Linked DNA regions of Homo sapiens. The protein of the gene in region 3 purifies or fractionates together with the protein of the main gene of each other region. This does not show direct contact. Each region holds a gene or a part of one and is shown on either strand. Other genes may lie near its edges. The genes, in order: RMND5A, RANBP10 and MKLN1.

Region 1 (10,451 bases), on a different chromosome or scaffold from region 3:
ATGACACACACGTTAGAGCTTTTGTAATTTTCCCACAGGTCCCTGAGGCTCTGTTTTTTTTTTTTTTTTAAACTGGTGTTCAGATTGGATGAATTCTATTGATTTTCACTGACTTTTTGCACTGCCACTTTGCTTCTGCTGTTGAAAAATTCATCCAATGAATTTTTTATTTTGGTTACTCTATCAGCTTTTTCCTTGCTAAGTCTCTCCCTTTGTTTCAAGATTGTTTGTATTTTTATAATAACTGCCCTAAAGTTTTGGATGGTTCCAGCATCTCTGTCATGTTGGCATTGGTGTCTGTTGATCATCTTTTTCCATGTGAGTTGAGATTTTCTTGGTTCTTTGTATGCCAAGTAATTTTGCAGTATCTTGAACATTTTGAATATGTATTATAGTACTCTGGGTCTTGTTTAAGTTCTGTGGAGAGTGTTGGTATTTTTGTTTTAGCAGGCAATCAACCTTGTTGGATTCAGGCCACAAGTTCTAACCAGTCTTTTCTGGGTTGTAGTTTCAGTGTTAGTTTTGTTTCTAAAGCCATTACAGTTATTTAGATTTGTCCTGTGTGTGTAACACCTGGTAGCCAATATGGGACCTAGGAATTAGGTCTATTCCCTAGTTCAGTTTTCAAAATCTGTAGTATGCTGTTTAGAGTCAGGACCATGCATGTATAGCTCAAAGGCAAACCCAGAGGTGTAGATAAACCACTCTCTTAACTAGTTGGCCATGCCCCCACAACCACTTTCAGCCTCAATACTGCAGTTGTTGGGATGTGCCATGGATTATTATGTTGATAGGCATATGTGTTTTCTCCTTTTTTCCCCTCCCATTATAGACAGTGCTGCAGTGGGCATGCTTTTACAGGTCATCATTGCATTCCTCTAAAAATATTGCTGCATATAATGCCTAGAAATCAGTTCATTCGCTTGATTTTATTTTATTCATGGACACCATTATTAAATCTACTTTAAAAAAACATTATCTAAAAATATACCTATTTACTCTTCTAGCATGACAAGTTTTAGAAAGGAGCAGTGGAAAAATTCCTTCCTTTGGGACGCTATAAATTGCAGTTGGGTTCTTATTGGGGTATCTCAGACTGAAACAAAGACCATTTTTTTCCTGTTAAGTGGGGTGAAAATAATCTATTTATGATTCCCTTTCTCTTTCTTTTCCCCAGAATTTTGATTCTGACATTAGCAGTGTGGGAATAGATGGCTGCTGGCAGGCAGACAGCCAAAGGCTTCTCAATGAGGTGATGGTGGAGCACTTCTTTCGACAAGGAATGCTGGATGTGGCTGAGGAGCTCTGTCAGGTAACAGTGTGCCAACTGGGAGGATATGAAAAAGAAACAAGGGAACTCCTTGGAGTTTATAGTATTTGCAGGGTGGGGTTTTGAGTCTTCCTCTAGCTATAGATAGATTTTTAATATTTAAATTATCAGAGATGACCTCATTTTACTAGGAGTATTTTGGGGAATTTTTTAAGTGGCAAAAATTATAGTTCTAGAACTTGTTATCCAGATCATTTTTTTCTTGTTCCTGTCCCAGAAGGTTAGTCCCAGTTCATGAATCAAAGGGCGCAAAAGCGATATTCTTTCTTCATGTCCATTTTTGATATAGAAGGTTAGTATAGCAGACAAGAGGAAAGGGACAAAAACATTGATGTTTGTTCTTCTGTTCTAGCCCAGCTTAAACGATTTTATCAAATGAATTTCCAGCTAAAATTTTTTACTTCGCATTAGCAGCATTTGTCTTTTATTTCTATCACACATGAGTTAGAACTCTACAACAGTTTACCAATACCATGTAGTCATAATAGTAGTAGCTGCCATATATTGAGTGCTTACCTTAAGCCAAGCCCTGCCTTTATTCCTTGCTGCAATCCCATGAAGTAAAAATTATTGTTTCCATTCTACAGATGAAAAATCTAAGGTCTGGAGAAGTAAGTTGCCCGAGGCCTTAACAGGTTCTTTGTGAAAGAACTGGGATTCAGTCCCTGATTCATATGTCTTCACACTCCGTTCTAAGCCACCATGTGCTGTTGCATTTTTGTTTGGAAACATGAAGGACCGAAAGAATTAGTTTAAAATCAGTCTGTAAACCAAACCTCTAATCTAAGCCTTTTCTATTTTAAACAATTCAGATAAATGATAACTCGGTTTTTCTCTGTACCTTACAGGGATTTTGTGTATGTGTCCATGTAATTTCCTGCAGTAAACTGTCATTGAGGATTGTTTGCTTTTAAGTAACAAAAGACCCACAATTACAGTGGCTTAAGCAAAAGTGAAATTTTTTTCTTGCACAGAAATCGGTAGTAAGACGTCCACAGCATGTTTGGTAGCTCTGCATTGTGAAACTCTTAGGGACTTAGCACCTTGTACCTCTGTTATTCCCAGGGTGTCTCCTGTCTTCAGAGTCCAGGATAGCAGCCAAAGCTCCAGCCATACCTTTGTATCCCAGAAAGGGGCAGAGTGCATATTTATGTTTCATTGGTCAGAACTTAACGTCTTACAAAGCCATACCCAGCTTTATTCCATTTGCTTATGTACCCTGCTGAAATTTGGGGATTCTACTATGGAAAAGAGGGGAAGAATGTACTAGGGGGCAGTCATCAGTCTCTACTATAGGGAATTATCTTTAATGGCTTGCCCCATATTTTACAATCTAGAATATACTTTTACCACTAGCTCCTTACCCTGATTACTGCTAACAAAAGTTCTTTCTTTCTTTCTTTTTCCAGGAATCTGGTCTTTCTGTAGACCCAAGTCAGAAGGAACCATTTGTGGAGTTAAATAGAATATTAGAGGCATTAAAGGTCAGAGTTCTGAGACCTGCTCTGGAGTGAGTATTGAGTTTGCTTTCTTTTGAGTACTTTGAGAACTCTCTGTAAGAAAACTCAATCAGAAAACACATTAGAGATTTTTAGATATATTTATCTTACCTGTGGTAGACTTCAGAGAAATCAAAGGAGAATTATTTTATTTATTTTGGCTAAGTGAAATATGGGGGGTGTGCAATATGAGAAAATGGTTGGAGCTTATTTCACTTATCAGTTGGTCTGAATTCCCATGAGAGAAAAGGGTTTTCTGTTTCCAGGCTACACCACCACTTTGTGTGGGCTGACATTACAACAAGCACTATTGTTCAGCCAGTGCAAGTTTGATATTTAAGCTTCCTTCATGTGCTGGGTTTTGCTGGGTTTTATGCTAGCATTCTAAGAAATTATTGGTTATTGGAACTAGGTGGTGTGGATGAAGAGAACAAATATTTTTATAAAGCTACTCTATTCTTAATTACTGTGGATTTTGGTAATTGACCATGAACCTCTCATTGATAAGAATTGTCTGAAATTACTCTGTAAGCTATAATAAATATTATTCTAGAGCAGGGTCAGCAAGCTTTTCCATAAAGGACCAAGTAGGAAATATTTTAGGCTTTTCATTTCACATAAGGTCTCTGTCGCATATTCTTCATTTTATTTTACAACCCTTTAAAAATTTAAAAACCCATTCTTGGCCATCTGCTATACAAAACAGGCAGCAAGCTGTATGTGGCCTGTGCCATAGTTTGCTGGCCCCAGTCCTAAAATTTTTTACTGTGAGGATTACCAGGTTATTTGTAATAAATAGCTCATAAAATAAAGGGAAGAAACTGGATTATAGAAGCAGTGATTTGTTGTGAGCTTATAGCTTTGGAATCCTGGTATTTTAAAACCAGAAAAATTAACCATCAGTGTTACAGGGTTAGCTGGGAAGTTGACTTTTATAAAATGTACACTTTTTCCCTTAAAATTTAGTTCCACTAACCCATTTAATTCTTCATAGCTTAGTTTTTTCTTTCTAATCATTTCTCAGTTCTTTCTCCTTTTTGAGACAGGGTCTCACTGTCACCCAGGCTAGAGTGCAGTGGCATAATCATGGCTCACTCCAGCCCCAACCCCCCAACCTCCCGCCTTAGCCTCCTGAGTAGTTGGGACTACAGGACTGTGCCGTTATGCCCAGCTAATTAAAAAAAATTTTTTTTTGTAGAGACAGGATCTCACTATGTTACCCAGGCTGGTTTCGAACTCCTGAGCTCAAGTGATTCTCCCACCTCGGCTTCCCAAAGTGCTGGAATTACAGACTTGAGCCTCTGTACTTGGCCATTTCTCAGTTCTGAGAAAATTTTGTGTAGTTCTAAAACCAGCCCAGATGACTAGACAGAAATTCCTGTATAAATTTATATAAAATTCTTGTATAAATTATAATAGATCTCACTTAAGAACTGTATCTCTGTGTAAGATGCATATTACCTTTGTAGAATTTGTTTAAGCAAATTTCAGATTGTGACACATCTGGGAGATAAATTCAACCAAATACCTCTAACACCTCTTAAACAAAATATGGCAACAACTACTTTTTTTTTTTTTTTTCCCAAAGAGACAGAGTCTTGCTCTGTGGCCCAGGCTAGAGTGCAGTGGGATGATCATAGCTCACTGCACACTCTCAAACTCCTGGGCTTAAGTAATCCTCCTGCCCCGGCCTCCTGAGTAGCTAAGACTACAGGTGCACACCACCACACCTGGCTAATTTTTAAATATTTTATAGAGACAGGATTTCTCTATGTCGCTCAGGCTGGTCTCAAACTTCTGGCCTCAAGTGATCCTCCTGGAGCGTCAGCTGCCCGAAGTACTGGGATTATAGGCATGGGCCAATGTGCCCGAGAAAGCCTACATACATATATGAACATGTAATGGGTTTCCCAGTTGTTTTATAGTGATTAGCAAATAATATTTGGGTTGTTATTCAAGGTAATATTCACTTATCTATGCGTTTCTTAGGTTTTTTCATTAAACTTTGTTCATATGTGCTAGTCATGTACGTACTATGACTATATCTGTAGTCACTGGCACATAGTATTTGCTACCTTAGCCTTCAGAGTACTCCAGACTTTTCTCCTAAGAGCCTTTTAAACTTTGTGCGTATATAAGATATGTTTCTTATTGATAAGCATGTTATGTATATTGATTATTTCTGTAAATTTTGTCTATTATTTGTTGCCTTAAAACAATTCCTCTCAGGCAGAGAGAGGACTTGTTCCATAAGTAAAAATTTTCTCATTTCATGTTTCTGGGAGTAGTGTTTAATATCAGCATGAGGGAATGTAGTGGTAATCATAGTTAACTCTGCTTGAGTGGTTATTGTATGCCTAGCATCGTTCTAAGCATTTTACGTGTCTTAACCTATTCAACCCTCATATTAACCTATGAGGTAAGTCATCTTACAGAGAAGCAATTAGGGCCTAGAAGATCCTCTGTGAAAAAAAGTCAAAAGATTATATGAGAAATGCTTTACATAATAGTCCCCCAGTATTCTCATTTGAGGTTCATTTTAACTTATTAAGTGTATCATCAAGCCAGGTGCAGTGGCTCACACCTGTAAGCCCAGCACTTTGGGAAGCTGAGGTGGGCAGATCGCTTGAGCCCAGGAGTTCGAGACCAGCCTGGGCAACATAGCAAAACCCTATCTCTACAAAAAAATAGAAAAATTAGCTGGGTATGGTGGTGTACGCCTGTAGTCTGAACTACTCAGGAGGCTGAAATGGGAGGATCACTTGAGCCCAGGAGGCGGAGTCTGCAGTGAACCAAGACCACACCACCACTCCAGAGCCGAATCCTGTCTCAAAAAATAAGAAAATAAATAGAAGTAAAAACGTACCATCAGTAATCCTACAGTAAAGAAACTCATTTAACTTGGTATAACCCAGTGTTTTCTCTGTGTATTTGACCAATCTTGTTTTCCCTCCAGATAACACATTTAAAACCCATAAAATTGGAGTTATACAAAACATAAGATTTAATAGAAATCGTCATTACAACAATTCAGATTTTTCCAATTCTTGCCTATTGTGGGTGCAGAGCAGATACTGACTAAGCATCTTTCATGAGCTAGGTACAGAAAATTCCCTTTACTCAACTTACAGCAAAAGTTGAATGATATGGGACTCCAATTTGGGGAATTCTAGTTAAGGTACAAGGCGGGAGATATCTGCCAGTTATGCAGCATCCCATTTGTTCCTGCTGGGAAGGATATCATGGAGCTCACAAGGGAAAAGAGGAAGGAGAGGATGCAGCAATTCCTCCAGACTGCCTATGCGGTGAGAAGGCAGAGGCCAGCCAAAAATTTGAGGTGGCTAGGCCGGGCACGGTGGCTCATGCCTGTAATCCCAGCACTTTGGGAGGCCAAGGCGGGCGAATCATCTGAGGTCAGGAGTTCAAGACGAGCCTGACCAACGTGGAGAAACCCCATCTCTATTAAAAATACAAAATTAGCCAGGTATGGTGGCGCATGCCTGTAATCCCAGCTACTCAGGAAGGCTGAGGCAGGAGAATCGCTTGAACCCGGGAGGCGGAGGTTGCGGTGAGCCAAGATCGCGCCACTGCACTCCAGCCTGGGCAACAAGAGTGAAACTCAGTCTCAAAAAAAAAAAAAAAAAAAAAAAAAAAAAAAAAGTGGAGGTGGCTAAAGGCCATTGAGGGCCTAGGGGAATGGTGATATTGTGGAGAGAAGTGGCAGAACAACACCTGATTACATAGATCTAATCAGGACCTTGCCTGCTCCTGTGTTCCGTGCCCTTGTACCTCTGAGTTTGTACAGATTTTCCCCCTCATCCAGATTTCTTTTATGCTCACCCAGATTGTTTTATTTGCTTTTTGAATTTCTCTTGGCGCCTAGAGTAGTGCTTACCTCATAGTAGGCCCTCAATGAATAACAGTAATCTGCAGGAGAATTTAGAGCAAACTTGTCATCCTCTTCCATGGTGGCAGATAGAAAGCCAAAAATAGTGTTAACGAGAGAATAGTAACTTAATACAACGAGGTGGGGGAAATATTAGAAAAAATAGGAACTGTCCTTGTAGCTATGCCATTATTAACATACATATTGAAAGAAAGCACTATCTTTAGGGGAAGCTACTTGGTTGCCTTCCTAAACGTGTCTCAAAGAGTAATACTACCTTGCTGGATTTGCCACAGTCTAGTATCTGACTTTCAGCTTTGCAGACTTGGAAACTTGTTTTTGGTGTCCTTATTTTGTTTTGTTTTCACTAAGAACAGGCCTTTAAAAACGATAAAAACCTGAATTGCTAAGCTGCGTACATAGTTTGGATTATTAGGGGCTGTGAAACAAGCTTGTGGTAGGCAGGTCCATGTGGAAGGCACATGAGCTTGCAAAGCCTGGAGTTGGAACAAGAGGAGATTGTTCTAGAAAATGTTCAAAGTTCTCAGGCTAAAATGTCCTGATGCCATTATGTCCACCATGGAGGTTGTGTTGCAGAGCCGTTGGGCAGTTCAGACTTCATTCACTGACTCCTTTTCTCAAAATTGTCCTTGGCTTGCCTTGGTCGAGTTTTGAGTCAGCATTAAGTATCCCAATAGGTAATAAATAAGAGTACAAAATCAAAAGGCACAACAAGATAAAAATACAGTGAAAAGTAAATCTCCCCACCTTTGCCTTCTAATCACAGTTACTCTCCAAACAGGCAGCCACCATTAACTGTATTATGTATACGTACATTTTTATGCACAAGTGGTTGCATACTATACACAGTGTTCTGCTTTTTACTTGAAAAATTTTGAAGTATTTGCCTATATCAGAGCATATAGAACTATTTTTTTTTTTTGGTGGCTGCTTAGTGTTCTCTTTTAGGGATTATACCTTAATTTTATTTAGCCAGTTCCTATGGATGGACGTTTGTAGTTTCCGATATTTTGCTTTATAAGTGATGCAGCATTGAATATCCGTTGCACATTATTTTGAGCATGCCTGCTAGATATGTTGTCCAATATGGTGACCACTCCTATGTGTAGCTCTTACTAATCTCTGCATTACTGAGAACCTCATGTAAAAGGGTGTGTGTGTGTGTCTTAAATAGAGTCAGATATGCAATACCATAGTTTGTGTGGTTTCTTAAATAGCATGTGAAAAGGACAGAGACTCACACCAACTCTGAGATGAGTTTAATGGTAGTAGTTCCAGCAGTGGACTCAGCCCATAGCTGAAAAATTACCATTTGAAAATATCTAAGAAATGAAACACTGAGTGTTCTTTTCAGTCTCTAAAGCAAAGTTACAGAGTTCCTCACTTTTTTGACTGAACTTTTTGTCAGGTTTGCCATTCTCTGAATTTTTTTAAGCATTTGATTCATGTTACTAAGGACATTTCACCAGGTCCACACCTGTGGAGTAAAAATCAATGTCATTCATTCCCCTGAACTTCAGCTTTTACCCCCAAGAGTATAGCCTTAAAGGAAATTAGAAAAAGAGGTTTTTGTAAGCCTTTAAATGCTGTGAAAGGTTACAGTGGAATGTGCTGTGGGATTGGCAAGAGGCTTTTTTTCCCTAGTATTACTAGAAATAGACACCCACCCAGGCTGGCAAAATTGTAAGATTAGAGAGATAAGCCCACTAATGCTGTCTGTTAGGTTCCTGAGGGAGAACCGCTAACTATGAAGGTGAAATCTTGTATTTATTTTTGGAATGATGTAGAAATTCTAAATATGGAGGTAACTGTGTGCCAAGTCTTTTCACAGGCCTGACAATTAAGATAATTAATGCTAATGTTTCTGCTGGGTAATTGTATAGATGTGGATTGCTTCTAACTTAGTCTTCTCATAAGTAATATTGTTTTGGGGTTTGTTGGTGGAAAGGCCCCAAAAGGCTCTTCATCAGAAGAATGTAGTGGCAGAGATCAGTGTAACACTGTTGATCTTACTGTCATTTTTGGGGTTCAGTGTTTCTCTAAATGGAGTAATTCCAAAGGTGACAGTGTTCTCGTGGTCCACGCTGGAAATTTGGGATCAGAATTTTTTTAAAAAAATTATAGAGTTAATAATTTCACTGCATTTTTAGTTTGCTTGCCCCCCCGCCCCCCACCATCTCTACTAAAAATACAAAATTTGCCAGGCGCGGTGGTGAGCACCTGTAACCCCAGCTACTCGGGAGGCTGAGGCACAAGAATCACTTGAACCCGGGAGGCAGAGGTTGCAGTGAGCCGAGATCACGCCACTGTACTCCAGCCTGGGCAACAGAATGAGACTCTGTCTCAAAAACAAAAACGTGGGGAGGAAGGAAGGGGGAGGGGCAGGGGCAGGAATCATTTTAGTGAGAAATAGAAAACGAATTTCGTTTTCTTTGTAATTCTTTAAGATTTATGAGAATGGGCCACAGACACCCTGACTTGCTCAGGTTCTCAAACTTTATGTCTTTCCTCATTATATCAGTCTGGAACTTCTTTGTCTTTATAAAGTAACCTCTTACCACTGAGATCTCTGTGTCCTTTCTCTCCTGTTTGTATTCTTTTTTTTTTGAGACGGAGTTTCACTCTTGTTGCCCAGGCTGGAGTGCAATGGCGCAATCTTGGCTCACCACAACCTCTGCCTCCCGAGTTCAAGCGATTCTCCTGCCTCAGCCTCCTGAGTAGCTGGGATTACAGGCATGCGCCACCACACCCGACTAATTTTGTATTTTCAGTAGAGATGGGGTTTCTCCATGTTCATCAGGCTGGCCTCAAACTCCCAGCATCAGGTGGTCCACCCACCTCGGCCTCCCAAAGTGCTGGGATTACAGGCCTAAGCCACTGCACCCAGCCCTTGTATTCTTTATTGAACCTATGGGCAGTCTTTGCAGGTTTCTAACATACATAAATTCGTTTTTACCACAGTTTAGTTAAATAACACCTGGCTGCCAACAACACAGTTCAGATTTCAGTCACCATGATGTATTAACTGTGAGCAATTGTATAAAATACAGACTTCTCTGCCAGCTCTTCAGTCTACACATCTGGACATAACAGGAGCATCATGGTCATGACCAGTTTTGTCACTTCGCTCTTGATCACTGCACATCTACTGTCAGTTACTCTCAGGCAACAGCTGTGTGGGTTGTGTCACCTCTTTAACTCCCAGGGATAAACCCACGTGACATTTTACAAAAATGGATAATTGGAAGACGGACTTGGCAACAAGAAAAACCTCTAGAAGTGAAATTGAATGTGATTAGAAAGATTTGAAAAAGGACAACAGCAAGATGAAGCTAGGGCAAGACCTAAGCCTACAGGAAGCTAATGGTACAAAGCATATTGGAAAAGTCCTGTCACTATAAAGACGAGGGTAAAGTCACTTCACCATCTTTTCACTTATATTGCACTAGAATAGAAAGATGCTTGTGGTTTAGATGGAACATTTACTTCTACTTTGGATTGAGAGAGAGAAGTGTGTGTGTGTGTGTGTGTGTGTGTGTGTGTGTGTGTGAATCAGTTTGGCTACTATTCGGGCCAAATTGATAATAGTTGCCTTATTGAAAGAAGATGGTAATTACAAGGATATTGAAGAACTTCACAGCCAGTAAAAGATGCTTTTATCATGTTCAGAAGTTGTGAATTGACTAAAGCTATCTGAGGAAGCTGCTATTGTGAG
Region 2 (10,451 bases), on a different chromosome or scaffold from region 3:
CAGGGCGAGCATCAGAGGGGGCTGCTTTGGCAGGTTCTGGGACTCTGTGGAGGAAAGACAAGGCCTGGTCACTGGCCTGCCCAGGGCTTGGGCCCAGGTCAAAGTTCCCTTGGGGGTGGAAGGAGGGGGCAGTGGACAGATTCTCTTGGAACAGAGTGTTCAGTACCTCTGTGTAAGTGTGTCCCAGCCACCAGGCCATGGCCCTGAAGTCATGCCAGGAACCTGAGGACCTTAGCCCCATGTAGAGCGCTGGGCTGGCCTGGGCCTACTGCCATGGCCTAGGACCCATCATGAACTCAGCTGGGCAGACAGAGGTCAAGGTTTAGGTTCAACCATGGGAGCCCAGGAGTCCTATGAGTCACCAGAGAGGGCCTGTACAGAGCTTGCTGCCCCAGTGTGGATAAACATCAGCTCTTTCTGGGGCCAATTGGGGTGGGGGTTGGGAACCACCCAGGTAGCTATGGGCTAGCTTCTGTTTTTGTTAGATCCACTCACCTAGGCCAGGCATGGTGGCTCACACCTGTAATCCCAGCACTTTGGGAGGCTAAGGCGGGCAGATCACCTGAGGCCAGGAGTTCGAGACCAACCTGGCCAACATGGCAAAACCCGTCTCTACTAAAAATACAACAACTAGCCAGGCGTGGTGGCACGCACCTTAGTCCCAGCTACTCAGGAGGCTGAGGCACGAAAATTGCTTAAACCCAGGAGGCAGAGGTGGAGATTGCTGTGAGCCAAGATTGTGCCACTGCACTCCAGCTTGGGCTACAGAGCAGACTCTGTCTCTAATAATAATAATAAATAGATTCACTCACCTAAAATGGCGCTGTTGAGGGCAGCACACACAGGTTCCCTCTGGATGGGGTCAAGCTGCTGGCCAACTGGGCAGCTCCAGGGGTCTGAGTATGCCAGCAGGCTGAAGGCATCCTACAGGACAGGGCATTCTTGAGAGGACTGTGGCACACACCATAGCTCACCCTGCTACCCGTGGCTCCAGAGGGAGACAGGGCCCTGCATGATGCCCAGCCTGGAATGTGGGGTGTAGGGTCGGGCAGGGCTGTACTCTCCCCAGAGCCTAGGTGTGGAGGGCACATGTCCAGTGGGCCCAGATGCCCCACTTCCCTCTGCAGACCTGGCTGGAGCCCACTCTTTCCTGCTGCCCCCTGGACTCTCCCAGAGCCACCCTGCCCCCAACACCAAATGGGGCCTGCTCTGCATGAGGCCCGGCTCATCCTGTACCTGCAGCATCTCTGTGTGGGCCAAATTCTTGCCGTACTCCCGGCCCAACTGCTCACTCAATGCCTGCAACTCGCGGCCAAACAGAATGATCCTTTCTGTGGCAGCCTGGTTGCCCCCGCAGAGCTGCCGCCGAGGATGCCTGTCATCTGCATCCAGAACCCAGTGGAGAACGTGTTAGGAGGGGTGAAGAGGGAAGGGCAGGACTAGGGTGGGGCAGGAAGGACCCCGGGTGGGCTGCAGCTTCTGCCAGAGGCAGGCAGGGCTGGGAGGAACAGGTGAGGCAGCTACAGTCAAGGCGTTCTTCTCTTCATTCACCTGGCGCACAGTCTAGGATTTAGGGAGGACTTGGAAGTTGTCCCTCTTCCCAGCCTGCACAGACGCAGGGTGCTCATTAGGGTGCCCATGCTCTCGAACACCCTCCAGCCTCAAACATAGGTGGTCTTGGCACAGGCCAGGGCCTTCGTACATTTGGAGCCACCTCAAGGACCCATTCACAATCGGCTAAGGAGGCTGTGGACCAGGTCTGGCTGAAGCTTCTCAAGATGCCAAAGCCTGCCTACCCCAGCCCCTCCCAGGGGAAGAGGGCACCCAGACTGCACACTGCCCTCAAAGAATAGCACACCGGGCCGTGGCTCTCACCCATGCTGGACTCATCCGTCTGCAGGTCCTCATGCTTGTAGGCACCATTAACAATGCGTGTGGACATGCTTCCTAGCACACCGTTGGGGTAGTGCTCTGCCTCCATCTCCATCTCACTGTCGCTGTGGGGAGGGGTTGAGGTGGGAGTTGGCCCAGGGGGTGTGGTTGGAGCAGCCTGGTTGGGCCTCCTTTCAAGCTGTAGCCATGGGTTGCTGTGGGTGAACCGAGGACCCCCAGGAACATGAAAGGACAGCTCAGGCTTCCAAGTCTTCAGCACTTGGCCCCTACTGTGACACCAGCTATCCTCAGAGGCCTGTCACCTGATTCCCACCCTTGCCCCAGTGCTGCCTCTGTGATTCTCCCCTCCCTGGCCCTCCTCTGAGTTCACACACCTCTTCTACATATCCCCCAACCTAATGACTGGGCCCCATGGCCCCCATGGGCAGCTCTGTGGCCTTGGTTGGAAGCCAAACTCAGGTCAGCCTTGAGGTGTACCTGGGGATGCTGAGAGCCACCTAGAGCTCTAGCCTGCGGCTTAGCTTCCCCTGCCTGCCCAACCTGGCTGTCTACAAGCCAGAGCCAGGGAAAGCTCCCTCATGATGGACCCTGAGGGTTCTCACAGGCCCGGCCTCTTTGGAGGAGACCACATCCTCAGCCTGGCATCATTGGAGCCTCTGGAGAAAGCCAAGGCCAAAGAAAGTGCAGCTAAATCGTGGGGAGGGCCAGAAGCCAGAGCTGATGTCTGGCCCGGTGGGCCAAAAATTAGGACTCCAGGCACAGACCTGAGATGGAGGCTGGGGGTGAAGGGCAGGGCGCTCAAAGGACAGACTGCAATGGGCCCAGCTGGCATAAGGCAGAAGGCAGAGGAGGAAGCAGAGCAAGGCAGGCACCTGGTCTCCTGGTTACTGGTACTGCTGTGGTGCTGGGACTTGGTGGAGTCTGTTGAGTTGGACTCGGAGTAATTGACGGAGGATGGGGAAGAGGACGAGGAGGAGGAGGAGGACGAGGATGAGGAGCTGGGTGCAGGGTATTTACTGTGGTTCTGTTTGCTCTTGGTGGACGCGACGCCATTGCTACAGCTGGGACTGTCTGCTCCTAGAAGCCAGGGTGACAGTCAGAAGAGGAGGGGCAGCTTCCCATGAAATGAAGCCCCAAGAACAACCACAGTGGTCCCATTTCCCTTCTCCCAAATCCAGCAGTGAGCCCTGAGCCCAGCCCAGGAAAGGGTATGTGGAGTGGCCTCTCTCCTCCACACCAGTTCTTCCCAGAGCCCTCTGGAGAGTGGCTGACCTGTGTTGTGCATGTGGGAACTACTGGGGCCATGTCGGGGACTGAGGCTGGGGGAGCCAGGGTAGCTGTCCTGGGACTTGGGGCTTCGGGAGCTCAAACTTCGGACCTCACTGTCCGTCCCATTCACCATCTCCACAAACTGCCGGCACCTGTGGAGGGAGCGGAGCAATAATGCTCTGGTTGTGGTCCAGGTTGACGTTCCCACCACCAGCTGAGAGGGGCTGGACTCTGGGGGAGCTGGGGGTGCCCAAGACTTACTTGAGCATGAAGAGGAGGTTGGGGTTGTGCTCCAGCAGCCCTGGGTAGAAGCGCTGGGTGGTCTCGATGGCCTCGCCCACACGGCCCTCCAGCACCAGCTTCTGGATCTCTGCAGGGTGCAAGAACACAGCAGTGAGCGAGGGCTACAGGCCTCTCCCACAGCCACACACCTGGGATGCTGCCAGCCTCAGGGTAGGGTCCGGCTCAGAGTGCCTCGCCAGCTTGAAATGCTCACAGGAGAGGAGGCTGGAGAAAGAACCTGACTGCCCAGCCCAACAGATCCTGGTTTCTGCCAAGTGTCAGAGAGTCCTCAAGAATATGGGGAAGATGGAGGGGAGACTCTCAGCCCAAAGGCAGGAGGGTAAATGTGGAGGTCTGCTCCTGCGGGGCACATGGTGCCAGGGACCTGGGGGCAGGGTAGGGCCCCAGCTGGGGCAACATGATCTGGGGATGGGCACCCAGGCAGCTTGGCGGCCTGAGTGGCTCCTCTTCAGACAGACTCCTCTCCTTCCAGGCCTCACAGGGGAATGGCAATGGAATCACACTGGTTTCTGACCAGGGCTCTGGCTGGTGGTCTTCAGGGGCTGCAGCATGCCCCCTGCTGGGAGAGGAGGCCATCCTCCTCATGCTGGCACCTCTGATGTTGACACCTCTCACGCCATCAGCATCTTGCTGCTGCCTTTTCGCTCTTGCCGTGGGGCCTGGTGCATCTCGCTGGGAGCAACTTCAGAGTCTGAGGCTCTCATTCATAGATCCCAAGTCTGGGATCCCTTTCCGTCTGTCTGGCTGAGCACAGCTTCTCTGGGAGACAGACACGTGCACATACAGAAGAGACAGCAGGCTTGGAGAGGGGTAGGCAGGCACTCACAGACACGCATATCCACACCCACTTGCCCTCATTCTCCTTTTCTCCTTCTAGCTCCTCACTGGGCTCCTTTTCCTCTTTTCCAACACCCCTCCTTCCGTGAAAGAGCCTCCAGACACACAGCATCCAGGCCAGCATCAACACTGGGAGAGCTCTGGCCAAGGGAGGACTTTAGGTTGTCTGCAAAGGGCAGGACCAGTGGTGGGGAGCAGAGGGTAGTGCCCCCACAGCAGCCATTGAGCACTGGCTTTGCCCTATCTGACCACTTCAGTCCCCTCTCTGGCTAGGAATAAGCAGAACTACTAAGGCAGGCAAACAGCCTTCCTGGAAGACCATGAACAGGAGGTTGAGAGGAATCCAGGATTCAGGGGGAAGGAAACAAGCAGGGAGGAAATGGAGGAATGGAACCAGCCATGCCAGGGCCTGGCCTGCGCCCAGCCTTCAGAATGTGCATTAGGGAGGCTGCCCTGAGACGTCTCCATCCTGCCAACTGTCCATCTGGGCAGTGCCATCTTGAAGGTGGGACAGGAACATGGCCTCGAGCTGCAAGCTGGTCATGAGGACCAGAGCTGAATGGACTCCTGACAGGTTAACCAGGGTTGACATGAGCCAGAGAGCAGAGTTAGGGACAGGTGAGGAAGGGAAAGGGGAAAGTAGAATAAACCTTACTTTGTCTGTTCTTTATGGACGCCTGTTCTTCCTGAATCGGGGTTTCAGTCATTCGAGCAAAAGCCGTGGCTGTGGCACAATACCCATGATGCACGAGGTAAGATGAAACCATGCTAGAAGAAAGGAAGAGCTTCAGGTGACACTCAAGAACTGCACTTCTCACTGACTACCCAATGGACTCAGGACAGATTACCTCCCCCAGAGGTCTCCCTAAACACGTCCTGGAGGTGTAACCTCCACAGAATGAGAATAAAGGGGCTGAAACAAAATGAAAACTTCCCCCATGGTGCCCCACGGTCATGAAGTCAGGCTTCGGAGGGGCTGGTCACCACATCTGTGCCCACAGTTCAGAGGAGTGGCTGCAGTTTATCTGAGACATGCTGCCCACAAGTAAGCGAGTATGATAACAGAAGTACACACACAGGCACACTCCTCACAGGTGGCTGCCTCTTTGGGAAATGCAGCAAGCCTAAGAGGCCAATAGTCTCACTGATAGCTTCCCGAAACTGCAGCTAGCCAGGTAATCTGGCAGATTTCCAGACAGGATGCATGCCACATGCACACCTTCTACAGACACAGGAGCCCCTCTGCAGGCTGTGCCATGTACCTGAGAGAAGCATTTCAGCCCTCCAGGTGAACCTGCCCTCAGCAGTTCCAGCTCTAGTGAGTGAGTGATGGGAAGCTAACTCACAACCCAGAGTTACACCATGATACACCACAAATCAGGGGCCCAAGAAGCCAAGCAATCAGGCTGATTTTGCCAGGCAGAGATAGGCAGCAGCAGGGCCAATGGGAACACAGTCATTGGGAAATGGTCTGGAGAAGTCTGACTCCCTGTAGCCATTTAACCCCAGCAGAAGCTGGCTGAACAGTGGCACATGTGTGTACACATATAAAGCAGAGGCTGAACCCTCAAATCTGATGTGTACAGGAGTGAATACCTTGGTGTGTACATGTGTCTGATGTCATTACTGTAACTCTAAACACAAATGTCTGAAGGGTTGTCAGGTGGAAGGCACAGAAGTTTGGGTGTGTGTTCCCTCAAGCTTTAAGGGGTAAATGAGATAATACACATAAAGTACCTGGCAGGAAGAAGTCCATAAATAAGACTTCTTATTATGAAATGATATATTACATAATATTATAGTATAAATAATAATTATCAGCTGGGCGTGATGGCTCATGACTGTCATCCCAGAACTTTGGGAGGACAAGGCGGGAGGATCACTTGAGGCCAGGAGTTCAAGACCAGCCTGGCCAACATTGCAAGATCTCATCTCTACTTTAAAAATATGGCCAGGCGTGGTGGCTCATGCCTGTAATCCCAGCACTTTGGGAGGCTGAGGCGGGCGGATCACAAGGTCAGGAGATCAAGACCATCCTGGCTAATGCGGTGGAATGCCATCTCTACTAAAAAAATACAAAAAAAAATTACGCCCGGGCGTAGTGGCGGGCACCTGTAGTCCCAGCTACTCAGGAGGCTGAGGCAGGAGAATGGCTTGAACCCAGGAGGCGGAGCTTGCAGTGAGCCGAGATTGCGCCACTGCACTACAGCCTGGGCGACAAAGCGAGACTCCATCTCAAAAAAAAAAAAAAAAAAAAAAAATTATTGGCTGCGTGTGGTGGCTCATGCCTGTAATCTCAACACTTTGGGAGGCCGAGGCAGGAAAATCACTTGAGCCCAGAAGTTTGAGACCAACCTGGGCAACATGGCGAAACCCTGTCCCCACAAAAAATACAAAAAATTAGCCAGGTGTGGTGGTGCATGCCTACAGTCCCAGCTACTCAGGAGACTGAGGTAGAAGAATTGCTTGAGCTCAGGAGGTCCATGCTGCAGTGAGCCATGACTGTGTCACTGCACTCCGCCTGGGCAATAGAGTAAACTCCTGACTCAGAAAAAAGTAAAGTAAGTATAATTATTATTATTACACCATATTATTATTATAAACACAAGGGTAAATATGAAAAAGTCTTTATCTACAAGAGGGTTACCTACACAAGTAAAAGAGAAGGAATTACCTGACCTTCCACTAGAGGAAGCCAGCCAAAAGGCTTGTGACAAATTTGTCTCTGTGATAACATAGCCATTATCAATATTCATTAAATGAAGTTATGTAAAACCACAGTACACAAATTATATGCAGGTCTTGGCAAATGCTACATATGAACACATACAAGCACATGGATACACACATGTAAACAAAAACACCTATGTGCTATGCTGGACATGGTAGCACATGCCTGTGATGCCAGCTACTCAGGAGGCTGAGGTGGGAGGATCACTTGAGCCCAGGAGTCCAACCTGGGCAACAAAGTGCGACCCCATCTCAGTATTTTTTTAAAAACCCCAAAACAAAAACACATCCATGTGCTGAGCCTAGGCCCTGAAAACTGAGAGTATCAGTTCCTCCCCTACACAGACTTGGCATCTTCACCCCTCTTCTTGGCAATCCCACCAAGCCTGCTCTGGGAGTGGCGCTGTCCTGGCCATCCAAGGAAGTCCTTGTCATCTGCTCTGGGGGGCTGTGAACAAGAGGCAGCAATGCTGTTTTTCCTGGGGAAGGTCTGGCCACCTAGCCCCTGCCTCAGCCCATCCTTGGGGCCTGCCTCAAGGGACAAAGGCTGCACAAAGAACTCAGTGTGTACCCCAACCCCACCCCAGGAATCCTAGCACCCTGGTGCCTTTGCAGGGCAATGACCACAGGCAGTGGAAGCCCAGCCCTTCCCCATGCCCATCTGCCCATCCTTGAGAGCCAAGCTAACACCCACCTCCTGGCAGAGTGGATACTGGTCACTGCCTCACTCAGGCTTGCAGATGGCAAGTGGAAGAGAAACCCAAAGCTGGCCTCCCTTGGGAGTTCAGCGACACTGGCTTCCAGGACAGTCTGGGAATTAATCAGCCAAGGAGCTAGCTCAGCTGGTCCTAGGGAGAACTCCCTTCCCTCCACCACCGCTATAGACGAATGAGACTCAGTTGGATGCTGGGCCCTGTGAGGTGGCCTCAGGCCAGAGTCACAGCACCATGGATACTCCCTATGGTAGAAAAAGGGTCCACAGAGGAAGAGACCACAGGGCATCCTCTGCAAAATCCTCTGCAAAATGACCTGGGGAAGGAAAACAGCCCTGCTGGTGATCTTATATACAGGAGCCTCCAATATGGCTGAGAGGCAAAGGTTTAATTAGGAGCAGCCCGGAGAACTCGGTGGGAGCTGTCCATCCGACGACAGAGAAGCAGGAGAGCTGCAGGCTGAATGGCCCTGGGAATGCTTCCCAGAAAGGATCCACCCGCTGGAATTTGTAAGAACAGCTTGTAGCCCTACAGGGGCCTAGAGTGAAGTGGGCTGGGGTGGGGTGGGAGTGGGTAAGGGCAGGAGCAGGGCACTCACTTCTGCAGCACTGCCTGCCACTCGCCAAGCCGGGCACTGATGGGGAAGCAGTGGACCGTGCCCTGGACCTTGGCACGCCACTCCCGCATGTAGTCCTCAATGTCAAACAGGAAGGGCTGCTGCCCAAAGTTGGCGTCCACAATCTCCCCAGGTGTCTGCAGGCCTACGGTGGGGTAGAGGTTGGCCTGAGGAGGAGAATGAAATGTCAGTCAGGCCCTGAGGGCAGTGGGGTTCTAAGGCCTCACCTCACCTCCATGGCTGCTGCTGGCCCATGCTTGGGCTGGGAGAGTTGCAGCAAGGCTGGAGGAGGCAGGGCGGAGCCACCTCTGTCCACCTCCCTAGCAGAGACATTATGCCCCAAAGCTTGAGGGGAGAAAGCAAAAGAAAAGCAAGCAAGGCACATCATGGAGAGTGTCCTGCCCTGTATCAGAGGCCATTGTGTCCTCAAGGCCCAAGAGCCCTTTCTGGAACTCAGCCAAAGCATACAGAAATGGGCTGGGCTCCACGACCCTTCAGACGTGCCCATGAAGGTCTGCTGCAATAGTGGGTCATGGCTCCTCTTGGAAAGATCCAGGGCCAAGGATCTCTCTGTCTCAAAAAAAATAAGACACATGAGGCTGGGCACAGTGGCTCATGCCTGTAATCCCAGCACTTTGGGAGGCCAATTTAGGAGGATCGCTTGAGCCCAGGTTTTCAAGACCAGTCTGGGCAACAAAGTGAGACCCTGTCTCTACAAAAAATAAAAAGATAAAAATTAGCCAGGTGTGGTGGTATGCACCTGTGGTCCCAGCTACTCGGGAGGCTGAGGTGGGAAGATGGCTTGAGTCCAGGAAATTGAGGCTGCAGTAAGCTGTGATTCTGCCACTGCAACCCAGCCTTGGTGACAAGAGTGAGTCCCTGTCTCAGAAAGAAAAAAAAAAAACAAACCAAAAGATAGATACATGGGGGGTAGGCAGAGATGGGATGACGCAGGAAAGGAGGGAGGAGGGGAACATGGCAAAAGGGAACCGGTGGTCTAGACCCCTGGTGCTGGCAAAGGGTGAAGAGAAGCTACCCTTCCTGTTAGAGGCTCGCTAAGAGGATCTTCTGGCCAGTAGGGTGTGAGGCTCCCTGCTTTCCACCTAGCCTCTACCATGACTGGCTTTTGTTCGGTCCCTCCCTCACTTGGTGGTTCCTGTGGCTCCCCACTGCAACTGTCCAGAGCCTCGCTAGCCTCCTCCCCACTGTCACTGCAGATGGTCTTCCCAGGGCCCTCAGTCCACCCTTCACCTCCGTGCTCAGGCCATGTTCCTTCCTGAGTATCATGCACTTTTTTTTTTTTGAGACGGAGTTTCGCTCTTGTTGCCCAGGCTGGAGTGCAATGGCGCGATTTCAGCTCACCGCAACTTCTACCTCCTGGGTTCAAGCAATTCTCTTGCCTCAGCCTCCTGAGTAGCTGGGATTACAGGCATGCGCCACCACGCCCGGCTAATTTTGTATTTTTAGCAGAGATGGGGTTTCTCCATGTTGGTCAGGCTGGTCTTGAACTCCCAACCTCAGGTGATCTGCCCACCTCAGCCTCCCAAAGTGCTAGGATCACAAGCGTGAGCCAGCGCGCCTGGCCAACCATGCATTTTTGTACCTGCACAAGGTATGGGACCTTTTCCTGTATGCTGGCTTCAGCCCACCATGGGCTCTGCACACAGAGGACCTCTCGCTTCCTTTCTTTCCCCTACCATCCTCCACCACAGGCAAGGCCCGCCTCCTCCAGCAAGCCTTCCTGACCGTCACTGCCTACCATGTCTTTCCCCCATACCTTCTTGCATGTGGCTGCATACTGGCCATGCTCATGCCTGGTCATTTCATGTCACGTCCCCATAACTAGACCCTTCCCTAGCCAGGGTCAGCATTCTCCACCTGATTCTGTTCTCTTTGCCTAGGACCACAGCCCCTCTCTGGGGCTTCCAGGTAAGAGGGAAGGATTCTGAGCCATGGACTGGAGGTTTTAACAGGACCCTGGGTGCTATGGTCTGGGCTTCAGAGGCCCATAAGATCACAAAGGCATTTCCTGGGGCATCACTGGGGTGTTTGGGATCCCAAAGCAGCCACCAGAGTCAGCAAACCTTCCT
Region 3 (10,451 bases):
CCATGTAGTTGGAGTTGAAATGTGGCCCTATGTACTTGACCTCTGATATTCTGGGCTATCTTGTTCTTGGATCTGAAGTTATTCAGCTTTTTTCTATACCCAGGCTAGGATTATGGACAGTTGGGAATTGGTGTGGCATTGTTTGATCTAACTGTAGAGACATTTTTCTGGTCTTGAATTAGCGTATTTCCAGGACGTCACTCCTTAAATTTTTGATGTAGGCCTGAGGCTTGGATAACACAAGTACCATCCGCGTTATCTGTTGTATAGACATTTTAAGAAAGTACATTTCAAGCAGGAAATGATTTAGTGGGATGGCAACTTTAATCTTTTGTGTCTTGTTACTCTGGCCCCTGGTTTGCAGTGGGCAGAACACTAGTTTTGGAGTTAGAAAGCAACAATTTGAGATTGGAGAAATACATTGCTGCAATTTTCTCAAGTACATACATAAAATAGTATTTAATACATACGTAACTTTCATACACTTCCACTTACTATATCTTGTTTAATCCTTATGACATTCTATTGACAAATGCAGTATAATTTGTATTTAAAGTAAAGTATTAGAAGAGTAATCTAAGCTTTTTTCTTTGAAGGAGTATAGTTGAGTATTATGGAGCTGGAGTTGGAGAATATTGTGTCTGCTGGGTTGGTGTGTGCCATGCCTAAATTATAAAACTCTTGGCTCTGAACTTCTATAAGCAAGCAAGGATATTACTTCTCTGTGTGACAGAAGATGTAGGAAAGGGGTTGACTTTACTTACCTTTGCCCTAAAATCCCCTCTAGCAGCAATTGTTGTATCTTTACTGGCAGTGGAAACCATATTAAGGTACTTCTTAAACAGGTCTCATTTTAGGTTAAAGACATTTGTTGAAATTGTCCACAAAGTGGCAAATATTTGTTGGCATAGATCTAAGCATTTCGAGGTGGCAGTAATAAATCAGTAACAAAAATGGTAAACATTTATGATGTGCCGTCCATTTGCTAGGCTCTCTTATGAACATTTTTAAGTGTATCAACTCATTTAATCCTTACCGCAATCCCAAGAGGAATCTCCGTTTGCCAGATGTTGGAAGCAGGTAGGGAGAAGTTTAAACTTGCCTAAGGTCACACAGCTAGATGGAACCAGAATTTGAATCAAGGTAGTCAGGCTCCACAGTCTGTGGTCTTTAACTATAGTGTTTTACTGCTTCTGCACAAAGGTATATATAGTACAGGAAATCAGAACTTTAAAAGAGCTCTTGTATTAAAGGCACTTACATTTTAGTTGTGTAAAGAAATGTGAAGTCATTAAAAAAAATTGAACAATTTTATCTCTATTTTCTTTCTAAGGACTTAGAATTCTTTTCCCCTTCTTCCAGAGGCAGAAAAAACAAATATTTCCCCTTTCAACTCTTTTTAATTTATTTGGACTTTAAAAATGTTAAAGCAGATTCAGTTATAGGGAACACATTTTTACTTTGAGACTAAAAAAAGGCCTTTTATTTTTGTGTGCTTAGAGATTGCCTGTATTTTACTTTTTTTCTGAAATTTACACCTAATTTAATAATTAAATACACTTATTTAAATAATTCATAAAATTACATATACTCTTATACATAAAAATATTTTGTAAACTGCTAATCCCTGTACTCAAATGTTTATTTTTGTATCTAATAATGATGCTAGTTACAATTTAGTGAGCACCTAATATATGCAAGATGCTTTTTGTATACAGTTTTGTTTAATTCTTGGTACATACCTGTAAGATAGGTATTTTATATATGTTTTGTGGAGGATGAAACTGAGGTCCATACAGGGTAAGTAGCTTGCCCAGGGTCATATAGTTTTCCAGAGGCTTGCCAGGTTTTCTGACTTAAAAACTATTGCATTGTGACTTTAATAACAGTCACCACTTATTGAGTACTTTCTATTCTTCAGGCACTGTACTGAGCATTTAGCATGTGTTCTTTGATATAATAGTCTTCACAAAAACCCTATGAGATAAATATTATTATTCTATTTTAGAGCTAGGAAAAGTGAGATTTAGGGAGGTAAGTTAACTTGCCCAGGTCTAAGAGTTGAAAATGTAAGAGGGGCAGGGCAGGGTGGCTCACACCTGTAATCCCTGCACTTTGGGAGGCCAAGGCAGGAGGATCACTTGTGCCCAGGAGTTTGAGACCAGCATGGGCAACACAATGAGACCCCATCTGCAATAATAATAATGATGAGGAGGAAGAAAATGTAGGTGATAAGGTTCTCATATTGGGCCTTTTGACTTCTGTTACGAAAGCTGTTCATTATTATACATGGCTATTGTATATGTCTAATTGAGATTACAGATAAGCGCTCTAAGGTTAGAACAGCAAGAGAGGGAAAAATAGATTTTATCTTGATGTTTAAGATTTTAGTATACTCATATGAGAACTGGGAGAAACTTTGAAAGTATTTTTTACATATTAGGTAATTTCATTGGTATAGAATGATTCTTATCTTGTTTACATATTATTGAATGACTTAGATAATTTAGATGATAAAATCTGATAGATTTTTAAGTGTGTTTACCTTTTTCCTGTTAGTCTTATTACTTAAAATCAAATAGTACTTAAAATAGTACCTTGTGTCAACATGTGATTGATTCATGGTTCAGAGTACAAGTGTTATGATTTGACAACTAGAATAGAAGGTGAATTTATTTCAACTCTTTTCAAAACTAATTTTAAAATTTCACATTTAAAAATGAATATAGGCTAGGCACGGTGGCTCATGCCTGTAATCCTAGCACTTTGGGAGGCTGAGGCAGGACCATCACTTGAGACCAGGAGTTTGAGACCAGCCTGGGAAACATACCCCATCTCTACAAAAGAAAAAAAATATATAAATATTTATATATTTTTATTACATAAAATATATGTGCATAGTTATATATTATTATGTTAAAAATATGTAAATATATATATATTCTTTTCTTCTTTGTCTCTACAAAAGAAAAAGACAGCATCTCGTCAATACCCCATGTCTAAGAAAAAAATAGACACTTTTTATATCATATATATTAAAATATATTTTATATATCTTTTAATATATATTTTGATGTAAAAAATGCTCTATGTTTATTATCGAATATTTGTAAAATATGGACCCACAGAAACAAAATTTAAATTACCCTTGATATCACTACCTAAAGATTACTAGTCACCCTTTAAATACTGTTTATTATCATTCCAGATCTTTTACTGTAGATGTATGTATTTTTCAATTTACTGTTGTCCTGTTTGCTGTTCTGTATTTGCTTTTTCCTCCTTAACATATAGTAAATACTTCCTTATGTTATTAAATATTCTTCTATATTGTATTTTTTTTCTTTTTTTTTAAAGGGACAGGGTCTTGCTCTGTCACCCATGCTGGAGTACAGTGGCATGATCATAGTTCACTGCAGCCTCGACCTCCTGGGCTCAAGCGATCCTCCAGCCCCAGTTTCTCAAGTAGCTGGGACTACAGGCACATGCCATCACGCCTGGCTAATTTTTTTTTTTTAGATGGAGTCTCGCTGTGTCACCCAGACTGGAATTTAGTGGCACCATCTTGGCTCACTGCAAACTCTGCCTCCTGGCTTCAAGCAATTCTTGTGCCTCAGCCTCCTAAGTAGCTGGTATTACAGGCGTGCACCACCACGTCTGGTTAATTTTTGTATTTTTGGTAGAGACACTGTTTCACCATGTTGGCCAGGCTGGTCTTGAATTCCTGACCTCAAATGATCCACTTGCTTTGGCCTCCCTAAGTGCTGGGATTACAGGCATGAGCCACCATGCCCAGCCAACCATGCCTGGCTAATTTTTTAAATTTTTTTGTAGAGATGGGGTCCCACTATGTTGCCCAGGCTGGTCTCCAGCTCCTGGGCTCAAGTGATCCTCTCACCTCAGTGCCCCAAAGTGCTGCGATTGTAGGTGTGAGCCACTGTGCCCAGCCAAAATTTATTATGGATACATTATATTCCATGTAATGACTTTATGTCATTTTGTTTAATTGGTCCCGTGTTATTAGACATTTAGGCTTTGTGGTTTTATTTTATTTTCATTTGTGTTTCTTGTTATTTGACTATTATGAGTCATGAGGTAGTTTTGCTTTACAGAAATTTTTTTTTTTTTGAAACGGAGTTTCGCTCTTATTGCCCAGGCTGGAGTGCAATGGCGCAGTCTCGGCTCACCGCAACCTCTGCCTCCCGGGTCCAAGCGATTCTCCTACCTCAGCCTCCCAAGTAGCTGGGATTACAGGCATGTGCCACCATACCCAGCTAATTTTTTGTATTTTTAGTAGAGACGGGGTTTCTCCGTGTTGGTCAGGCTGGTCCCGAACTCCTGACCTCAGGTGATCCGCCCACCTCGGCCTTCCAAAGTGTTGGGATTACAGCCACCACACCCAGCCTGGAAAAAAATTTTGAACTCATTGGTGATAAATTCCTAGATGTTGAGTTGCTGGATTAAAGGTATCAGTTTATTTTCCTTCTATCTGTGTAGACTACTCTGAGTTCATTTTGGCATTATCCTTGGTAATTTGGAAGAAAACATATTTAAATCAGAGACAGGTCCGTAGAGATGTCTAGAGGATGCTTATATAATTCAAAAGTGATAATGCTCCCAATAACTTTTTTGTTTCTTCCTTCTCTATCCCTTTACTTTAGCTTTTAAGTGAATTTTGATTTTATTAATCACATATAGTTGAAAAATAGAATATATTTATTGTATTTGGTGTACAGATAATGGTGGTTATGAAAATGGATTTGAGGTCTTGTTACAATAATTCTGTAGGCTCCTGCAACCCAGAATTTGTGAACCACTAGTTTGGAGGCATGCAACTCCCAGGAGACCGGATACTATTATGCCCTTCCTTTTCTCCCTTTTCTCCCTATCTTAAACTGAGATTTAAGGACACTGGCCCTGTTTGGGAACCTTACTGGCCACTGAAAGTTCTGTGTTTTTCAGTCTGGGACTCTTAGAACTTCAGAAAAATAAAAACACTCAAGATGGAAGAAATGTACTCAGGATGAGAATTTGAGTCTACAGAGCTGATTCCTAGAATTAGATATTTGTGACTTTTGGCAAGTTATGATTCTTTTCTGAGCGTCAGTTTCTTGTGTAGAAATACTTTTTATCTTGATCAAATGTTGAGAGGTTTATGTACAATTTTTTGGGCACATGGGTAAATGGTTCTATTATTTGCGTTAACTTTTAGGTAAATATTTAAATAGATTTTTAATAAATGATTTTTGGCCTGATACAAAGACTTTGTGATGTTTTACGTGTAGATAAGATACATTTCAGCCACTTGTGGCAATGAGTTTGCTGTATTTCAGTCATTCAAAAATCGTTTTTGGAAATATGAAAGATTTTCTAGACTTTAATTTTAGAGATACAGCTATTTATAGACATTTTAATATGTATAAAATGTTTCAAAGAATGTACAGTTGAGAATTTAGAGATCCCTAATTACTGTTTGTTTATAATACCATTTGTCAGAAATCTCTGATAAGAGACAATAGAAAATTTATAAAATTTCTAGGTCTTTATAGGTTCAATCTTAGGATAGTTGATCCGGGTATCTTCTCTGCTACCGGATTTCCCAGGGCTTGTTTTGTGAATGGCTGGTTCTGTAGATTGTTGCTTATTAAGGGGTGGTCAGATAAAGCTCTGAGAAGTCCAGCAGTATTAAAATCTATTAATATGGGGGACTTTTGAAGAAAATATTTTTTAACATCTTTGCACATTGGGAAGATGTTTCAGTTAGAAAATTTTTTTGTTGTTGTTTAATGAGAACTTCAGGACTTGGTTACGAATATTTCTAAAAATCTGTGAAGTCAAAGTAACATTCTGTAGAATACTGTGTATGTATATTTATGCTGTAGATAAACAAAGATATTGTTTGTTTAATGGGTTTTGCTTATGATGAAATTTTACTGATTAAGATTAATCCATGTTTAAAAAAGTATACAAAGAGAAAGGAAATATCATAGTCATTATCTAGGAATAATTTAAGTAGTCTAATATAAATCTGTCCCTAAAAAAGTTGTTGAATGGCAGCTAACTAGATTGAAGTACCCTAACATAACTTATATTTTGAATTGGTTGTTAATAATAATTGGAAAACTAGGCTATGTTTAGTCCTAAGACTATAGGGTTTCCTCTCAACACATTTTAGCTGTATCCCACAAATTGTGGTATGTTACATGTTCATTATCATTTATGCAAAAATGTTTTTCAGATTTTATTTTGGCTTATTCTTTGACCTGTAGGTTTTTTTTTTTTTTTAACAAATGTATTGCTTACTTTTTGAACGTTTGGGGATTTGCTAGTTATCTTTCTGTTACTAATTTCTTAATTTCACTATGATTAGAGAACACACTCTGAATAGTTTCAGACCTTTATTGATACTTATTTTATGGCTCAGCATTTTTATAAATGTTTATGTACCCTTGAAAAGACTATGCATTCTGCTGTTAACTACTGTCTTCTATGTACTTTGTTAAGTTCAAGTTTGTAAATTGTGTTATTGTGTTGTACAAATCTTCTCTATCCTTACTGAATTTTTTTTTTTTTGCCTTTTTTTCTATTCATTACAGAGAGAGGTGTCTTGAGGTTAAGTGTCAAATGTGTCTTACTGTGATTGTGGATTTGTATATTTCTCCTTTTAGTTCTATAAAGAACTAAACTGTATGCTTTATGTATTTTGAAGTCATATTACTAGGCACATACAAACTTATCTTTCTAGTACATTGGCTCTTTATCATTATAACATGTCCCTTTTTATCTCTAGTAACACTTGTCTCTCGCCTCAAAGTCTTCTTAGCTACACCTGCTTTATTTTGGCTGCTGTTTGCTTGCATGGTAAAACTTTCTCTCTCCTTTTTGCTTTTAATGCTCCTGTAGCTTTATATTTGGGGTCTGTTTCTTGTTAAGAATAAACAGATTTTTGTTTGCCTGTTTTTAATTAAATCTGAAATATATTTAGCTCATTAATGGTAAATATAATTATTGATAAATTTGGGTTTATGTCTGTCATTTTATTGTTTTCTGTTTGTCCTACTTGTTCTATATTCTATTTTCTCTCCATTGTTGCCTTCTTTTGGATTAATCAAGTGTTTTAAAAATATTATTTTATTCCTCCCTTTGTTAGCTTGTTAGTTATATATTCTGTTACTGTTCTTTTGGTGGTTACGCTAGATCACCACAAGCTTTCTTGTGGTACATTAGAGTTGCATATTCATTAGGATTTTGAAAAACAACATCTCAGACATTGTTAGGACCCTAGAAAACTTTAATAGCATTTATCACTCTCCTGCTTTTATGTTGTCATTGTCATGCATTTCACGTCTACATTTAAATCCAGAGACTGTTGTTTTGTACAGTTAATATTTACCCTTTCCATTGTTCTTTATTTCCTTTTGTATTTACATGCTTCCATCTGAGATTAATTTTCCTCTGTCTGAAGAACTCCTTTTAGGGAGTTTGGTGGTACTGAATTCTCAGTTTTTGCTTGTTTGAAATTTATTTATTTTCATCTTTGAAGAATATATTAAATGACTGTACAGTTCTACATTATTAGCTGTTATTTTCTTGAAGCACTTTAAAGATCTCAGTTCATTGTCTTCTAGCTTCCATTGTTTCTGTTGCAAAATCAGCCGTCAGACTTACTGTTGCTTCTTGGAAGGTAGTATGACTTTCTTGTTCAGCTGCCTTTCTTTTTGTCATTCTCTTTTTCTTTAAGTTTAAACAGCTTTCAGTGATGCACCTAAGAATGGTTTTGTTTGTACCCTGTTTGGCGTTTCTGGCACCTCTTGAATTTGTAGTATGACTGATCAGCTGTGAAAAAATTTTGACTTTTTAAAAATATTGTTTCTGCCCCATTTTTGTCTCCTTTGCTCTGTGACTCCAATTAAATCTTTATTATACTTTTTATCCCCCATATGTCTCCTGCTCTCTTCTGTTATTTTTATGATTTTTTTCCTCCTCTTATCCGTTCTGGATAGTTTTTACTTGACTGTATTTCAGTTCACTTATTCTGAATTTAACTATGTCCAATCTGCTTTTTAACCCCATCTATTCTTAATTTTAGTTATAGTATTTTTTAGTTTTAGAATTATTTCATCCTCTCTTTTTAAGATAGATTCTAATTATGTGAAAATCTCTTGTCATGTATTTTTTGAGCATATTAATCAAATTGCTTTAAAGTCTGTGTCTGAAAACTTCAATATCTGTATCACCTATAGGCCTATTTCCATCATCTCTTTCCTTTTGATTTTGCATCTTGTTAGGCCAAATAATAATAATAGTTAATATATTTGTATATTAATGTATGTTAATTATATATTCTATTGTATATTATATAAATTATTACATGTGGATAATAACATAATAGTAATAATTATTATTAGGCAATTTTTTGATGGAGTGCCAGACATTATATGCAGAATTTTAGATACAAATTTTGTATCTATAATGATACATTTCCCCAGATAGGATTCACATGTCTTCAGATTCACCCATCTTCTTGCAGGCAGATAGAGATCACTGCAACTGTCAAGGACTGAGCTGACTTGAGGTTGGGTTTTCAGCCTTATAAACCTTGTTCTACCTGTAGTTTGCTTCCAACTTGGTAGCCCCCTAGAGATCTCAATTAAGAGATTGGGTATTTTTAGGGCTTCTCTGGCTTTTTTTCTTTCCAGACCCATGAGAGTTTTAAAAGCTCCTTCTTCCTTTTTAATTGCTTTCTGCTGGCTTTTTAGCCTTTTGCTATGTGCAGTTTAAAAGCTGATAAATCCCTTAAGAGGAAAATCAGTACTGAGTGTCACATTTGTTCTTCTGTGCCTTCTTTCACTAGGGGATCTTGACTCCTCAAGACTTAGCTACCAAGTTTTGTCCCCCTACTCCCATGAAATTGCCAAAAGCTTTGCTGACTTCTCTGCCTCCTAGTGGCTGTCCTTTTTTGGCTTCTTAGCCCCTTGGCCTGTGCCATTAAAGAAATAGGTGACATGTCTTGAAAGGGAAAGCTGCACAGAATGTCAGATACCCTTCAGTGAGTTTCTTGCCACCTCAAGTCTTAGCTACCTCAGAAAGTCTGATATTTTAAGAACTTTCTCCCTATTTAATACAGTTTTTCTAGTTTAAGAGGGAGTGTTGATCTGCTACAGACTATTCCGTCATATTCAAAAGCAGAAATCTTTCTGTGTTTAGTTCTTTTGGAATAGAGTGTTATATCTTGTAGGCCTGTGAGTTTCTCATGGTTATATTAATGTAAAAACGTACGACTTGATCCCCAGAGTTCTTTGGTCTCTTGCTAAGTGTTTTCCTTCATTAACTGCTTATTCTTGCTATCTGATGGGAAAGAATTGTGGAACTTAAATACAGTTGACCCTTGAACAACATGGATTTGAATTTGCAGATCTACTTACACGTGATTTTCTTCTGCTTCTGCCACCTTGAGACAGAAAGGTCGATCCCTTCTCTTTCTCCTTCTCAGCCTACTCAACGTGAAGATGACAACAATGAAGACCTTTGTGATGATCCACTTCCATTTAATGAATAGTAAATATTTTTTCTCTTCCTTATAGTTTTCTTAATAACATTTTCCTTTCTCTAGCTTATTGTAAGAATATAGTATGTCATACACGTAACACATGAAATATGTGTTAATTGTCTATTCATGTTATTGATAAGGCTTCTAGTCAACAGTAAGCTATTAGCAGTTAAGTTTTATGGGAGTCAAAAGTCATACATGGCTTTTTCAACTGCATGGGAGTTGGCGCCCCTAGGCCCCACATTGTTCAAGGGTCAACTGACTGTAACATGATTTGTTAGCAGTTGTTTTATTCTTGTTCTTAGCCAAAAAACTGAGAAGTTATTGTTAAGCAGTTGTTTTAAATGCTTATTAAGAGTTAAAATGAGATTTTATTTTTGGTTTCATTGGTGATTTGCACATTTCTTTTGAGACTTACTTGTTTATAAGGTTAAGAAATTGAGAGTTGGTCGGGTGCACTGGCTCGTGCCTGTAATCCCAGCACTTTGGGAGGCCGAGGTGGGTGGATCACTTGAGGTCAGGAATTCAGCCTGGCCAACATAGTGAAACCCCGTCTCTACTAAAAATACAAAAATTAGCAGGATGTGTTGGTGCATGCCTGTGCTCCCAGCTGTTTGGGAGGCTGAGGCACGAGAATTGCTTGAATCCAGGAGGTGGAGGTTGCAGCGAGCTGAGATCGTGCCACTGTACTCCAGACTGGGTGACAGAGGGAGACTCAGTCTCCAAAAAAAAAAAAATTGAGAGTTTAATCTTTCTATAAGTATAGTATTTCCCTTCATATAATAGGATTTTTAAATTATTTACCTTTTTGTTAGGACTTTTATGGAATCTTATATTTATGTGAAGATGTAGGTTTAGAAGGAAGATAATTGGGTTTGGTGTAAACTTTGGTTTTGTAAAT

What was found.
Region 1: the proteins of MKLN1 (region 3) and RMND5A purify together in Homo sapiens (affinity purification with mass spectrometry; 6 studies listed by BioGRID and IntAct, with this or other methods). This does not show direct contact.
Region 2: the proteins of MKLN1 (region 3) and RANBP10 purify together in Homo sapiens (affinity purification with mass spectrometry; 2 studies listed by BioGRID and IntAct, with this or other methods). This does not show direct contact.

The regions. Positions count from the first base shown.
Region 1 is NC_000002.12:86,750,719-86,761,169, forward strand, and holds part of RMND5A (E3 ubiquitin-protein transferase RMND5A), read left to right. Parts: intron 1-1,177; coding exon 1,178-1,312; intron 1,313-2,739; coding exon 2,740-2,840; intron 2,841-10,451.
Region 2 is NC_000016.10:67,726,515-67,736,965, forward strand, and holds part of RANBP10 (ran-binding protein 10), read right to left. Parts: intron 8,529-10,451; coding exon 8,344-8,528; intron 8,286-8,343; exon of another isoform or gene 8,035-8,285; coding exon of another isoform or gene 7,727-8,034; intron 5,071-7,726; coding exon 4,958-5,070; intron 3,533-4,957; coding exon 3,424-3,532; intron 3,315-3,423; coding exon 3,166-3,314; intron 2,971-3,165; coding exon 2,766-2,970; intron 2,088-2,765; coding exon of another isoform or gene 1,998-2,087; coding exon 1,876-1,997; intron 1,383-1,875; coding exon 1,237-1,382; intron 925-1,236; coding exon 813-924; intron 45-812; coding exon 1-44. UniProt on the Homo sapiens protein: May act as an adapter protein to couple membrane receptors to intracellular signaling pathways.
Region 3 is NC_000007.14:131,329,426-131,339,876, forward strand, and holds part of MKLN1 (muskelin), read left to right. Parts: intron 1-10,219; exon of another isoform or gene 10,220-10,451. UniProt on the Homo sapiens protein: Component of the CTLH E3 ubiquitin-protein ligase complex that selectively accepts ubiquitin from UBE2H and mediates ubiquitination and subsequent proteasomal degradation of the transcription factor HBP1.